Linked DNA regions of Homo sapiens: region 2 is linked to region 1. Evidence: fine-mapped expression QTL. A gene starts in region 1. The other region holds a variant in brackets. All regions are shown on one strand. Distances are from middle to middle.

What was found. PIP is the estimated chance that this variant, and not a neighbour inherited with it, causes the effect.
Region 2: its variant is fine-mapped to the expression of CEBPZ in esophagus muscle (GTEx, PIP 0.98).

What each region holds. Positions count from the first base shown.
Region 1 is chr2:37,227,048-37,235,047 of GRCh38, reverse strand. It overlaps CEBPZ (CCAAT enhancer binding protein zeta), which reads left to right and starts at 3,452. Exons shown (of 16, transcript NM_005760.3): 1 at 3,452-3,636; 2 at 6,012-7,504. The coding sequence starts at 3,481. It overlaps NDUFAF7 (NADH:ubiquinone oxidoreductase complex assembly factor 7), which reads right to left and starts at 3,390. Exons shown (of 10, transcript NM_144736.5): 1 at 3,288-3,390; 2 at 2,782-2,942. The coding sequence starts at 3,342. RefSeq lists enhancers at 3,501-3,950, 2,908-4,107.
Region 2 is chr2:37,441,710-37,450,246 of GRCh38, reverse strand. No RefSeq gene overlaps it. Among named protein-coding and RNA genes, the nearest start is that of QPCT, 100 kb to the right of the region's middle. The variant C/T (reference allele first, on the strand shown) is at 4,237.

The DNA.
Region 1 (8,000 bases):
GCAGAAGATCATGCCTTATTTATCTTCATATCCCAAGTTTTAGCACGATGCCTAACCTTCAAGAAACACTCAAGAATTGAGTTAAATATTTCTTATGCTTCTCAAGCTCCTATTCTACCACCTTACTACAGGTGACATGGGCCCCAGTCTCACTCCAGAATTAAAGAATGTTATAAAATACGAATTCCTCAGCTTCCCATCCCCACCTGGCCTCTAACCTAATCTGGGGACTCCAAGAATGAAATGCCTTCCCCTTCTCCTCTCATCCAAACCTAATCCCTCCGCCTGTGCTCTGGACCATTCCTCATACAACTCCCCTGAGTCCTTTTAGCTGTCCCCTTCTCTCTTCCAGCTTCAACTTTCCCCCTTCAGCATTCAAAATAAATCAAGTCACTCCCATTTTTGAGAACATTTTTTCAATCCACACATCTCTTCTTCTAGGCTTTCTAGTTCCGTTCATAAGGAAACATTATTGGGGTATTTACGCTTTTTTGTGTTATGAACCACTGTGGTAGCCCAGTGATGCCTATAGACCCCTTCACAGAGTGTTTTTAAATGCACAGAACCACAAAGAAATAACTGAAAAATGTGTATCAAATGTTCTAAAAAATGTGATATATACACTTCTTTACTAGTGTATTAAAAAAATATAATTAGGCCGCGCACAGTGGCTCACACCTGTAATCCCAACACTTTAGGAGGCTGAGACAGGCGGATCATATGAGGCCAGGAGTTCAAGACCAGCCTGGCCAACAAGGCAAAACCCGATCTCCATTGAAAATACAAAAAACCTAGCTGGGCATGGAAACATACACCTGTAATCCCAACTACTCGGGAGGCTGAGGCACAAGAATCCTTTGAACCTTGAAGGTGGAGGTTGCAGTGAGCCAAGATTGCACTACTGCACTCCAGCCTGGGTGACAGAATGAGACTCTATCTCAAAAAGCCAACAAACAAAAAAGCCCATAATCAAGCCAAAGACCCAATAATTAACAAAATTTTGAAGTAAGGATGAGCACGATGAAATCCTGAGATGCCTGTGATCACTGTATTGTGATAAGGAAATACCAATGATTTCCACAGATGACAAAGTCACAGGTATTGCTGATGCTACTAGTTGCTGCGTATGTTCATAATTGAAGAAATGCTAAATTTCAGTTGAAAGTTAGTGAAAATAAAGGTATAATATTTTTTCCATCCAGCTTCATGAAACCCCTGATTTCTATTAAAGGGTCCCTAGGTTAAGAGCCTCTACATTTTAGAGTTACCCCTACTCTCAATGCTGGGAAACCTTCCTTTCTCTCAGTATGTTCTCCCTGGTTCCTTGGCTTTAAATATGACCTATATGCTGATGACGAGCAAATGTATATATGCCTGCCCAGTCTTTCTTCTGAACACCAGGCTCACTTTTTTTTTTTTTTTTTTTGAGACAGAGTCTCGCTCTGTTGCCCAGGCTGGAGTGCAATGGCGAAATCTAGGCTCACTGCAACCTCTGCGTCCCGGGTTCAAGCGATTCTCCTGCCTCCTGACTAGCTGGGATTACAGGCACAAGCCACCACGCCCGGCTAATTTTTGTATTTTTAATAGAGACGGGGTTTCACCAAGTTGGTCAGGCTGGTCTCAAACTCCTGACCTCGTGATCCACCCGCCTTGGCCTCCCAAAGTGCTGGGATTACAGGCGTGAGCCGCCACGTCCGGCCCTGAACGCCAGACTCTTACAGCGAATTGCCTACTTTCTATCTCCACCTGCATGTCACTGCTAACAAAATATGTATAAAATGCAGCTCCTGGTGTAGGCCCTCTCCCTAGTACTCCTCCAAACCTGGTCCTGTCTGTCTTAATCTCAATAAAAGGTACCATCATCACCCAACTGCTCAAGCTAAAAGTACGAATCAGCCTTGATTCCTCCGTTCCATCACTCAATCCATCGGCAAATCCTGTCAGTCCCTTTCTAAATCACCCTCTTCTATTTCTAGTACCACCACACTAGTCTAAGCCACCTATCTTGCAGCCCTGCCTAACCGGCATCGAAAGAAAGATACCGGCCTTGGGTAAACCTCGACACTAGAGTCACACTACCATATCCAACAACAATGGCCAATCTAACCCCAGAATTCCACAGAGGTCATATTTCAACCCAGCAAAAGATGAAATATTCTAAAATAAAGGACTATAGGCTTTCACCAAATGGCTCTGTAGAACAGACAAGGAAACGTGGGTCAGAAAGCTGTGACTGTGCCTAATCCTAGAACAGTGAAGACGACCCAGACTGCATTCTCAACTGCACATGTGAGAAAACCCAGCACATGTCTCCAATGCCAGCTGAAGCCATTCCAACACAGACGACTTTCCAGGCAGTAATTCCTATTTCCAGCTGCCTGTTGGAGATTTCTACCTAAGAGTCCCACACACTTCAAATTCATATACCAGCCTGAACTCTCCATCCTTCCTCCCGTATTCCTTCTCCCAAAGCAATGAATCCACACCACCCACCATCAGCCAAGTAGGAAAGTCATCCTTCCCGCATCATAAATCCAATCAGCTACATTCTGTCTCCTAAACACCCTTGGACCGTGTCCTCTCCTCTTTACTGGCACTGCCTCTGACGTGAGCCAGCCCTGACCAACTGACAAATTATCTGTCCCCAGGTCCTCAGAAATGGCTCTTCCCCTGGCAGGCACCCCCACTGCCTGGGCTGAGAACCTTCGGGCTTCTCCCTCCTGGCTTGCACCTCGCAAATCGGCTAGAGAGGGCCTAGTCCTCGGGCTACCCGACCCATACCTTGGCTGGATTAGTCAACACCTCCTTCATGTACTCGGCCACAGTGATGGGACCAGTAGACTTTATTTTGTACATAAGATGCCGCAGCATCGGCGTCACCGGGTTTTCTGCAGGCTCATTCCCGGAGCTGAAGTATTTCCCTCTCCAAATAAAAGGAATGGCTGCGAAAAACACAAATTAAACAGACCCCATGATAAATCTGACCATTCACGAGCGCAAGCCGCCTGAGCGTTTTCAAAACAGCTTCGTGAACCCTTAACCTCGCCCCACCGCAGACCGCGGGCTACTGTGCTTAGCACGCCCACGGGGCGCAGAGACAGCACCCACTTGCCCACGACTACGCAGCCCTATTGCGTTTGTACCGGACCCGTTTCCAGCCCAGGGTACCTTCAAGGTGGAAGTGAGCCCCCGAGCCCTTGATCCCCCGGTACCCTCAACTGAAGAGCTGAGGAAGGCGCCCCACGCGGCTTCCACGGCAACCGGGCTTCGAGGGGACTGACGCTTACCTGCGCGCGCCACGGCACACAACGGCCCCAAACCTGACCTCAGCAGTACACTCATGCTGAAATTCGCAGGCTAGCTCGCTCCGCCAGGAGCTGGGGCTTAGACCATTTCCGGGAGAAGACACGCCCCGACAGGAATTACGCCACTGGCAGAGCGGAAATAGGCTGAGTTTCACGCGCGTATGCTTTGCCCGCCATGGCCGCAGTCAAGGAGCCTTTGGAGTTCCATGCCAAGCGGCCTTGGCGCCCCGAGGAGGCAGTAGAAGATCCGGACGAGGAGGATGAGGATAATACTAGTGAAGCCGAGAATGGGTTCTCCCTGGAGGAAGTGTTACGGCTCGGAGGCACCAAGGTAACGGCCGCGGGCTCCGGGGAACGGGATCAGGCGTGGAGAGTTCCGAAGGTGGCTAGGCTGACTGCCCCGCCGCTTCCGCGCTGCGTAGAGCGCGGGCGTCCAGGACCGAGATCCCAGCCTCTGAAGCATGTGTTCGGTGCGCTTCCCACGCCGGTTTCCACTGCTGTTTACAAAAGAAAAGTTTCGAATTGAACGTTGTATTCTCTGGCTATTCTTAGGATGTAGGCGATCTTCTGATTTTATTGACGTGGTATAACCATCACACCATCAGGTCGGAGAGTGGCTTTTCTTGGTCCTGACCTTGTGGTATGAGTGTTTTGAACACCAGTGGTATTGGAATTTTCATTTCTGTTCTCATAGAGTACATGCACGTGTCACTGTATGCCCCAGAAGCCCTCTTTTTTGGAGCATCCTAATTAAGGGAGAGAAACAGTAAACAAACTTTTAAACACATAGTACAGCAGACGCGGGGTAGTGCTATAAAAGAAAATAAAACAAGGAAGGACGATAAGGAGTGGGAGCGCGTTAGTATTAAATGAGATGATCGACAAACACATCACGGAAATGTTTGAGCAGAATCCTAAAGGACAGGAAGGAGTGAGCTGCCATTCCAGTCAGTTGGAACAGCAAATGCAAAGACAGGCAGAAGAGTGCCTAACCTATTCCATGAGCAGCCAAAATGCCAGTGTAGCAGAGGCAGAGTGAGTTAAGGGGAGAATAGTAAGAAAGGAGGGCCGAGGGGTCAGAGGGCAGGCTTTTGCTCTGAGTTTGATGCAAAACCACTGGAAGATTTTAAGCAGATAAGGAACAGAAATTAACTTTGTTTTTAATATTATTTTGTTTGGAGACTGGACTTTCAAGGTGGAGGAGTTAGTTAGAGATAGGCAGATTCACAGTTTGCTCTGTGCTTGTGTATATTTAAGTTTTGAATAGGTAATATATACACATGAAACACGTGGTGCAAACTTTAAAAGATACATAGTGAAGTCAAATTGTTTCCACTTTTATCTCAGCCATAACCATTGCCCTGATAGGAAGCAATTATTTTTACAACTGCATTTTATATCTTTCAGGGATACTATATACCTTTTCAAGCATATACATACTCATTTATGTGTATGAAATACGGGTGTATCTTTTTTACATAAATGGTACCATATATATACACCTATCTCTACATTTTGCTTTCTTTTCTGTCTTAGAAATCCTTCTATATCAGTGCATAACGTTCTGTGTCATTGCTATGGCTGCATAAATCATTTTGTCTGTCTTAATTTATCTAACCAGCCATTTATTGTGAATATTTAAATTATTGCCAGTCTTTCACTATTTTAAATAATACTACAGTTAATAACCTTAATCGTGTTTTTCCCCCACTTTTGTAAGTGTATATGTAGTATAAATTTGTAGAAATGAGCCAGGCACAGTGGCTCACACCCATAATCCCAGCACTTTGGGAGTCAGAGGTGGGAGGATACCTTGAGTCCAGGAGTTTGAGACCAGCCTGGGCAACATAAGGAGACCTCATCTCAAAAAAAAATTTTTTTTTTAAATAGCTGGGCGTGTAGTGCCAGCTACAGGCTGAGGTTGGAGGATCACTTCAGCCTGGGAGGTTGAGGCTGCAGTTCAGCCATGGTCATGCCACTGTACTCAAGCCTGGACAACAGAGCGAGACCATGTCTCAATCAGTTAGTTAATTTTTAGAAATGAAGCTGCTGGGCCAACAGATGTGTGCCTTGTATTAAATAGTTGTGATTGGAGTTGACAAATTGTCCTCCATGGAGGTTGTGTCAGTTTACACTCACATCAACCATGTATGAAAGTGCCGTTTCCGCCACCCCTTCCCCAGCATCACCTGTCATTGTATCTTGCTCATCTTGCAGTGTATCTTTGCTCATCTGATAAATTAAAAGATGGATGTATCATTGTGGTTTTAATGTGGATTTGTCTAAACCTCAGTGAGGTTGAACATCTTTTCATATTCTTAAAGAACCCTTTTTTTCTATGAACTGTTCATGTCCTTTGCACATTTTTCTTTTGGGTTGTCACTTACTGATGTGTAGAAACTTATATTAAGGGATTAAACCCAATTACTTTGATAGGAATTGCTTGTATTTTTTTTCCAGTTTATAATTTATATTTTTTTCCTATATCGAAATAAAAAGTGTGTGTGCGTGTGTGTGTGTGTAAAAGAAAGAGAGAGAAAGAGAAATTTACTTATCCTTTCCTTTGTGGACCCTGAGTTTTATGTCAAATTTGAAAGGATTTTTCCAGTTCCGAAATTATTTTTAAAATTATGTTGTGTTTCCTATTATTTTATGGTTTTATTTTTCACATTTGTAATGTATTTTTAACTTATGTTTTTAATGCAGCAAGATTACCTTATGCTGGCTACTTTGGATGAGAATGAGGAAGTGATAGATGGAGGCAAAAAAGGAGCAATCGATGACCTTCAGCAAGGTGAATTGGAAGCATTTATTCAAAATCTTAATTTGGCGAAGTATACAAAAGCTTCCTTAGTTGAAGAAGATGAACCAGCTGAAAAAGAAAATTCCAGCAAAAAAGAAGTAAAAATACCTAAAATAAATAATAAAAATACAGCAGAAAGTCAAAGGACATCAGTTAATAAGGTGAAAAATAAGAATAGGCCAGAACCACATTCTGATGAGAATGGCAGTACCACACCGAAAGTAAAGAAAGATAAACAGAACATCTTTGAATTTTTTGAGAGACAGACTTTGTTACTTAGGCCTGGAGGCAAATGGTATGATCTGGAGTACAGCAATGAATATTCTTTGAAACCCCAGCCTCAGGATGTTGTATCTAAGTACAAAACCCTTGCTCAGAAGCTGTATCAGCATGAAATCAACTTATTCAAAAGTAAGACGAATAGTCAAAAGGGAGCCTCTTCTACCTGGATGAAGGCAATTGTGTCATCGGGGACACTAGGTGACAGGATGGCAGCCATGATTCTTCTTATTCAGGATGATGCCGTTCACACACTTCAGTTTGTAGAAACTCTTGTGAACCTTGTTAAAAAGAAGGGCAGCAAACAGCAGTGCCTTATGGCCTTGGATACTTTCAAAGAGTTGCTTATCACAGACCTTTTGCCAGACAATCGGAAGCTGAGGATTTTCAGCCAGCGTCCTTTTGACAAACTGGAACAGTTGTCCAGTGGCAACAAGGACTCAAGAGATAGAAGACTGATATTATGGTATTTTGAACACCAGCTGAAACACTTAGTGGCTGAATTTGTGCAGGTCTTAGAAACTTTAAGTCATGATACATTAGTAACCACTAAAACTCGAGCCCTTACCGTGGCTCATGAGCTGCTTTGTAACAAGCCTGAGGAAGAAAAGGCTCTTCTTGTGCAAGTGGTAAATAAACTGGGAGATCCTCAGAACAGAATTGCCACAAAAGCATCCCATCTGTTAGAGACATTACTTTGTAAACATCCCAATATGAAAGGAGTTGTGTCTGGTGAAGTAGAAAGGCTACTCTTCCGCTCAAATATCAGCTCCAAAGCTCAATATTATGCAATTTGCTTTTTAAATCAAATGGCTCTGTCCCATGAAGAAAGTGAATTGGCTAACAAATTAATAACTGTTTACTTTTGCTTTTTTCGGACTTGTGTCAAAAAAAAAGATGTTGAATCAAAAATGCTTAGCGCCCTTTTAACAGGTGTGAATAGGGCATACCCTTATTCCCAGACTGGTGATGACAAAGTAAGGGAGCAGATTGACACACTGTTTAAAGTGTTGCATATTGTGAATTTTAATACCAGTGTCCAGGCTTTAATGTTGCTTTTCCAAGTAATGAATTCTCAGCAGACAATATCGGATCGATATTACACAGCATTATACAGGTAAGAACATACCCTTCCAATATGAGACATGAAATAATAACTTGATGTAGTACAGCACAAGCAGTGCCCTCTGTGGGGCAAGAAAAAGAGTTAGAAAATTTGGTTTTAGGCCCCCTCAGCAGCTTGCTACTCGCCACCTTCAAGTAAGTCACTTAATCTTTGTTTCCCTGATGGGCACAAATTATATTAGATGCTTTGAATACATTTTTCATTTTGAGAGGTTGTAAAATACAGAAAAATACCCAAAAGATTCATTCATATCTACCACCTAGTATTTCAGAATTAACATTTTGCTATATTTGTTTTAAATCTTTTGGGATATTAAAGAAATAAAATTGCAGATATAATTGCAGTTTCCGTCTTCCCATTCTCCTCAGTCCTCTATCTTTTCCCTGCTGTCTTTCACACAGTTGAATGCATTCACACAGTAACTCATTCAACAAGTATTTTCTGAGTGCCTGCAGTATGGTGCCATGCTCTAGGTGCACAGGAGGCA
Region 2 (8,537 bases), 210 kb before region 1:
CCAGCCACTGGAGCTAGTTCCTGGTCATGTTATTCTATGCTTTCAAACTCCCACACACACTCCATCCTCCGCCAAAATACATAAACCTCTTTGAATTACACTCCTTCTCTTATAGGAGCAATTGACTACAGTTGGATGTGATATGCCTTTGTTTGTTTTAATTTACGGATAACCAGGAATGCTACCCTGCCTCTTTTTTTCAAACACCCACCATCCCATCAGAGGTCCTCTTCTGGGGTCTTAGTTTTCTGGTAATTTTTTTTTTTTTTTTTTTTACTAAGAATAGTTGTGGTTAGAGGCAGCTCCAAGCACAGCCCCCAGTCGTAAGGCTCATTAAGAACATTCTCCAACGTTCAGACTACAGCAGTAAATCACCAGCTCCAAGAAGGGGAGGCAGGGCGTGGATGGCAACTAGAGATCCTTCAGCTGGCGTCCAGGAAGGAAGGCTGCCTGGGTCTCATTCCAGGATGACAGCCCTTATAAAGGTGAAAGGTTTGAGGGATATAAGAAGGAAAATACTGAGACCTATAAACACACTTTTCATCTCTCAGCCAACACCTGTTATTTTGCAAACTTTGTAAGCGGTCTAAGGAAAGAACCAGCTCTGCTCAAAGATTTCTCAGAAAAGCATTTCAGCTTAGCATTTGTTACTTAAAATCCCCAAGAACGACTTCTGTCACACCCACCTCCCATTAGAAGGTAGCTTTTGACTGAAGTAACCCCAAGAAGGACAAGTTACAGGCTAACATCTCAACCCTAAATACAAAACGGAACCACTTTTGTTTTTCCTGACTTCAGTATCAATAGAAGTCTATACTTCCAGGACTGGCATTTTCCAAAGTTGTTAATATACAGATACCCAAAATCAAGAGAATGAGAGTGTGTGAGTTTGGGGAAAGTTGACAGATTCCTTCTCTTGGTCAGAGTGCATATTAGCATGCTAAAGTTTCTGAGAAGTCCTGCATTGAAGAAACAGGTTTATGTAAAATACAGCATTTTCCAAATTTGCTTTACCACAGAACCCTTTTTTTGTTCCTAACGCCTATTAATATTCTGCAGAAAACATTGCCCCCAGAAAAGAAAAGCCTGCATTTGGCCATTTCGATTTTGTTTGGTTTGAAGATAAAGGCAAATTTGCCTCCAAAGAAAATCTTCTCAGTGCATGAGTCCTCACTAGAGTGATGCTGACATTTCCGTGAACCCCAGGCCCTGGATCAGGAACAAGTGTTGGTTACTCTCAATGACTCTCCTTGCCCCCACCTCCCACCTTCTACCACCTCTCAGTTCTCTTCTGCCACATCTCCCCAGTGAAGACCAGCTGATAGCTTCACAGAGCCCATGTGGCACAGAGTAAAACAATTTAAATGGATACCAGCCAAAGAAATCTGTGAAGCAGATGATAATGTCAAATATACATTCAGAGCATTTTTATGTGGTTCTTAAATGGAAAGAAGGATTTCTCTTCCTTCAATCCTTCCGTTCATAATTTTTAACAAATGGGCTTCTTGGAATATGCAAATTTAGGGATGGAAGGAAAAGATCCATATATGGAACTCAAGTTTTAATTAAAGAGAGCATCCACAAAAATAAAAGCTCCAGGTCATTTGCAAGACCCAGCTGAGGAATGATTTTCTGTCTATCCATGGAAAACTATTCACAATGTATTGTTGCATGAAAAAGCAAGTTCCAAAACCATATACACAGAGTGATTCATTTTGTAAATGCAATTGACTCAATGTTTGTTGAAAGATAAATATGCATTAAAAGGAGACTCTAAGAATTTATATCAAATTGACAGTGATGATCTCTGAGCGAAAGTGTTTTCTTTTCTCATATAAAATGACATTTTATATTTTCTCATATAAAAGTTAAAATGAAAATTTTAACTTTTCTCATATAAAATGATATTTTACAATAAAAAATAATATTTTGGAAATGTTCTAGTCTACCACTTGTGTTATCTGCAGAGAAATATCCAAGGATGGAGGAAGCACTTTTCCTCATGAAGAGGAAGGATCATGAGGCCAGACTGTGTGGACAGTGAGTAGCCAAGAGCAGGACAACGTCCTCCACAGCACTTAGTGCAGGCTTTTGCACACAGCAGGCATCAAGCACTTGCCATAAGACAAGCTAAACTATAAGGTAACAGCAGCAAGTCATGATTCTAAATACTGGGGACAACCAGTACATTCAAAGTGAGAGTAGCCAATAAGTATAGAGAGGTTACAAATAAGATCCCAGATCCAAATAGTCAATACAAAACCACCCCCAGCCCTGACATCCTCCTCCACCCATACCCACACACCTACTTATTAGCTGGAAGTCCAGTACCTTTTTGAATTTCCTTTTCCCAACCAGTTCAAAGAATTTTCAGGGCTGTAACCCAAATGTCCACCAATTGGTGGGTCTTTGGATCAATTCCCCTAGAAGTCATAAAGAAAGGTGGAGATTGTCACATATACGATATGGTCTCCACCTGCCTTCTGCCTCCCTGCCCTGTTGACCATTTTTACTCCATCACCCACAGGCCACTAACCCCTCCAGGCCAAGTAGTCTCCTCTAAGCTATGTAGCTCGGCTGCTCTCCATCTCTAGCCAGTTGGACAACACCTGCTGCCTCTCATCAGAACTCTTGCAGAAGAGCCTGCCACAGCAGAGCTGCTGAACCCCTCTGGTTCTCTCCTCTGTACAAAGCCCCGTTCCCCATAGAGTGGATAGAGTGGGCAGGCATTGCAGAGCTGGGAAGGGGGCCTGGTGGTTGTGCAAGGGGATTTGGGGACTAAAGGCCATGTTGGGTTGATAAGCACAGCCTCACGTCCTATCTGAACTCTAATATTTAGCCCCTGCTGCTCAGTTCGGCTCAACCTGCCAAAATTCTTCCTCACAAAAAGAGATTTTTTTTCTAAATAAATGTTTTGTCTCTGTCTTCATTCTGGCTTCCTTTAGACCCACCCACCACCCCCCCACCCCCCCGCCACCGCCCGCCGCCCCGCAAGTACCTCAGAAAGTGCAGTACATATTAAAATTACAAAAATGGACAGAGTTCTCTTGTTTTTCCCACAAGACTCTTGGGCTCCAAGCAAAGCAGAAAATTTGGTTAAGTCTCATTCCCTGATAGTTGAGATGTTAAGAAAAATTCAGTTGCAAAAAAAAAACCCCAAAATAATCCGATTTTAAAATGAGCAAATGATCTGAATAGACATTTCTCAAAAGAAGACATACGAATACCCAACAGATATATATGAGCAAATGCTCAACATCACTACTCACAGGAGAAGGCAAATCAAAACCACAATGAGATGTCATCTCATTGCAGTTAAAATAGCTATTAAGAAAAAGACAGAAAATAACAAGTGCTGGCAAGGATGTAGAGAAAGGGAATGCTCGTACATGATTGGTGGGATTGCAAATTAGCACAGCCATTACGGAACATGGTACAAAGGTTCCTCAAGAAATTAAAAACAGGTCTACCATATTTTCCAGCCATCCCACTGCCAGGTATCTATCCAAAAGAAAGGAGATCAAGATATGGAAGACATATCTGCCTTCTATGTTTATTGCAGCACTATTCACAATAGCTAAGAAACAAAACCAACCTGTGTCCATCAATGAATAAATGGATAAATAAAACATGGTATATGTATACAATTGAATATTATTCAGCCACCTAAAAAAGAATGAACTCCTGTCATTTGCAATAACATGGATAGAACTGAAGGTCATTATGTTAAGTAAAATAAGGCAGGCACAGAAAGACAAATATCAGGTGTTTTCACTCATACGTTAAAGCTAAAAAAAAGTTGATCTCATGGAGGTAGGGAGTAGAATGATAAATACCAGGGGCTGGGAAGGGTAGGAGAGAGGGTGAGATGAAAACAGGTTAGTTAATAGGTACAAAAATACAATTAAATAAAAGGAATATGTTCTAGAGCTCGATAGCACAGTAGGGTGACTATTATTGTGTATTTTGAAATAGCTAGAAGATTTGGAGTGTCCCTAGCACAAAGAAATAGTAAATGTTCGAGGTGACAAATATCCTAATCACCCTGACTTGGTCATTACACATGGTATATATGTATCAAAATATCATATGTACCCCCATAAATATGTATAATTAGTATGTATCAATTTATAAATTACTTCTGAAAAAAAAGTGCCTCCCCCAGCCCCTGCACTCTGCCAGCTTCCTAGGACAGAAGACTGATCAGCCTCAAACACAGAGACTCTTTAAGGAGGG[C/T]GTTGCTAATTCCAACCCAGTCTCAGCTCTGACATGGCCATAACACCTGCCACACGTGTGACGGTGCAAAGTAAGATTTTTACTCAAAATCCCCATTCAGAGCTGGAAGAAGCCTTAGTCATCTCCTCTAACCTCCTCATGTTACAGATGAGGATGAACAGGCTCAGGATCATGTCAGCCAGGTAACAGCCAAACTTAGGCTGGACTCTAAGCCTCCTGGCTTCTAATTCAGTCCAGAGGAATACCAAGCCCCTAGTACAGGAAAACAACAATGGTTATAGCATAGTATACATTATTAGAAACATTTAACCAACTCAGATTCAAGCTCTATACTAGTTTGTCATTTTCTTTTACAAATGTCATTCCCTTCATCCTTGATATTATTCTGATTGTACAGATAAATAAATTGAGGCTCAGAAAAGTAACCTTTCCCAAATCATGCAGTTTGGACACAGTACAGCCAGAATTCCAGCTGAAGCCGGTATGAACCCAAAGCCCCTGATTTTTTTTTCACTACATTAAACTGATTTCATAAAAACTGAAGAAGAGTGGACGAAAGCTTGTCTATTTAAGCATAAAGTGGCAATTTATCAAATGGATTTACAAAAAAAATAAAACTGCCTAGCTGTGTTGAATGACCTGAATTCTCACATTAAAAACAGGTTCCAAATCAATGTTCTGTTTCAAAGCATTTTTTCTCTACTGTGATCTAGTTATTGATTACAAAGAAGAATGACAGAAGACAGCTACTATGAGGAAAAACAATATTATTATTCTAATCAAGTAACTTTGGGCGGGAAATAGTACAATGCCTATGTGTTGCCAGGGCATTGCAAACATCAAATAGTAACTCATTTAAAAAACACATAAAATGCCTCTTTAATAAATGGATAATCTCCTTTAATTCCTGAAAATACCTAGAATGTAAGAATGCACAAATTCATTAAAATTTTATAAGTTTAGAGCAAAGAAAGATTGCCATATTTTTGCAAAATTCTCTTGTACGTACATACTCATACTTTTTCAATCTGCCAGATGTAGGCTAAAAAACTGGAAAAAAAGCATAACACTTCCCAAGAGTTTTTGGCCAAGAAACACATGAGTAGATTTGGGGGTGTGTATGTGTGTGTAGGGGTTGTATGTGTCATGCCATACATGAATATATAAAGATTTTGTTCCCACCACACCAGTTGGTTAAAATAAATATGATTCATTTGAGTGGGTTCATGTCAATGTTGTTCTGAATGAAAACAAAACAAAATCAGCAAAACTACAAAACAGTAGGCACACCTTCTGTTCCAGAAAGCAATTGAATCTTCATCTAGGGTTTCTCTCCAGCCTGGTTCACAGACTCAGTGAAATATACACCTCAGCGAGAGAGATACAGAAAGGGACCATGTGGACTCCATCTATGTTCTGCTTGCTATCACAGTCTTTCCTTTTTCTTTCCTAGGAGCATTTTCTAAGTAAATTAGTGATAGATTTTAAATATAAACAGTTTATGCAATACAGAAGAAAAAACTGTTATCATTCAGAGATAATCACAATGAATACTTGGTTCTACATACTTTCTATTTTGAATATACGAAGTATAGTTTTGGTTCTGTTTTATCACTTAATATATCTTGTATGTTTTCCTCACATTTAGATATATTTTTTGAAACATGATTTTTAATGGTAGCATAAAGTATTATAACATGTGTACTCAATAATTTATTAAGTCACTTTTCTGTTTAATATTTAGATTATTTGCAATGTTTTGGCATTATAAATATGAAAGATGTATTAAATATGTGGCACATATATTTTTGTCTGCATATGGGTTGATTTCCTTAGAATTAATGTTAAAAAGTACTTATCAAAAGTAGAATTATTGAGTCAATTCCATTTTTAAATTTTTCTTTTTTACTCAACTACTTTAAAAACATTCAAACAACATAGAAAAATATAGAATAAAATGAAAAATCCCTCCTGCCTACCTAATCCTATTCTTAGTCCTATCACTATTGCAGTCTTAAGTTCATTCCATTACTTATTCTTTCCATTAGACTTTTTTTATTTTGACAATCATATTTTTTATTTTCAAAAACCCTTCTGTACTCTGAGTTACTTTTTTATAGCTGCCAATTCTTATTTTATGAATAGATTCTTTGAATGTTGTTGTTTATATCCAAAGACAGAAAATAAACTTCTTTTGTAACCTTTTTGTTCTCAATATTCTCTTTCTGTGGTCCAGTGATCTGTTCATTCAGCTTGATCCTTCTCTTTCTAGCTATTGGTTTTCTACATGGCATCTGAGATTCTTAAAATTCCCACTTATCTCTATGAATGAAGACCTGGGAAGATTTATTCCCACTTATCTCTGTGAATGAAGACCTGGGAAGCTTTAAGAATTCCCATTTATCTCTATGAATGAAGACCTGGGAAGCTTTATTTAGTTAGCTTTGCAGTTGCAAAGGTCCTTCCTCACTCCCACCCCAAATGGTGTGAATTGAGGGGGGCTGACAGTGTGCTCTCTAGAAGCTTCCACTTCCTAACCAGAAACACTGCTGAGGCAGCGGTTGACCGTCTAGTGTGCAAATCTTGGTGTCTTCACCTGGACAATCACCCACCCCTCATCTCTGTGACCTGTGGCTCAGTGTGAGAGGGTTTATGAACGTAACTGGCCCCTGTTCAGTACCAATGGCCCATCTATTGTCACATGACCCTTTCTGTTCTTTGTTCCCTTGAAATTTCTCAGAATCTGCTCTTATCTACCTAGCTGTTTTCTCTGTGTGTTTTTTCAACCCTTATCAAGTCAATCCCATTACTTTCCATCATCCAGGAAATTTCCCACCATTTCTGATATGTTGATGTTGCCCTTTCTTGTTTTCCATGAAAGTAGTGGGTCTAGTTTTGACAAATATATTTCCTTTTATTTCAAGGGACTTAGAAGAAGGCCAGAGGTGGTCAAATGTGCCTAAACCAACACATAGATCCAATGCACCACACCTTTTTTCTCTTGTAAGAATGTTATTTTACACTTGATTTTTACTCCCTATCAAAACCATCGTCATATTTCTTATTAAAGTTATTGTCTCAGAAAGGTATTGGATACAAGAATCAGAAAGCACTGATCCAAACTGACTGGAACAGTAAAGGGAATGCATTTACCCATGTACATGAAAATTTCAGAGGTCATATAAGCCTCAGGGCTGGCTCAAATAAGCTGTTCAACATTGATACCACAAACTGCCGTCTGCAGCGTCTTCTTCCTCTTAAGGTTTTATCTTGTGTTTGGAAGATGGCTACCAAGGGTTTCTGTAACTACATATTTTCTCCCTAATATCCAGCAGAAAGTGAGTGTCTTGTCAGGCAGGCTTTTTGCAATTTCAAGAAAATCTCTTTCCCAGAAACCCTTAGAAAATATCTCTCCACAGCTCATTGAACCAAAATGGGCCACATAAGTCAACCACTGTGGATAAAGGAAATAAATGTGCTGATTGGGCTTAAGCCAAAATAATTACTGGATTTAAAGTTGGTTGTAGTCTTCTGCTCAAGAAACAGAAGTATATATGGAATGGGAGGCTTGGAAAGTTCAGAGGGGCAAATTCTAAACACAAATCAGAGTCTACTACAAAAAAAGAAGGGAGGAATAAGCTAAAATAGCAAATGGTCAGCACAGTCCTGAAATAATATGAATGTCTACCAAAAAACAGCCATCTAGATGCTGTAGCTGCACATTTGGGTTACAGAGCTGAGAATCTGCTCTTCCCTAAGTGGTGGTTACACTTGCCCATTGCACAAAGTTTTTCACTTTTAAACCCTTTTCACAGTACATTACTAAGAGATCTCCCACCCCAAGAATTTTCAATAATCATTTTATGATTTTTATACTTTATGTTAAAGATTTTAAACTGAGACATCCGCAACGAGTATCCTAAATTGCAAAGTCTTAGGGCACAATCCTCCACAAGACTGCCCTCATTTAAGACACAAGTCTCAAGTTGGGGGATCCCCATGGCCACACTCATTTCAGACCAGCTGGCTACAATTTTGAGTATCTCCACAGACTCCTTCAGGTTTAAATAATTCACTAGGATGACACACTGAATTCAGGAAGTGCAATGTTTATAGTTTTATTATAGCAAAAGGAGACAAACTAGAACCAGCCAGAGGAAGAGATGTGGAGGGATAAGTGTAGGAAGTTTCTGTCATCCTCAAAGATGTGTTACTCTCCTGGCATCAAAGAGTTACAAAAACCAAAGAGTAATGCCGGCTGGGCATGGTGGCTCACACCTGCAATCCCAGCACTTTGGGAG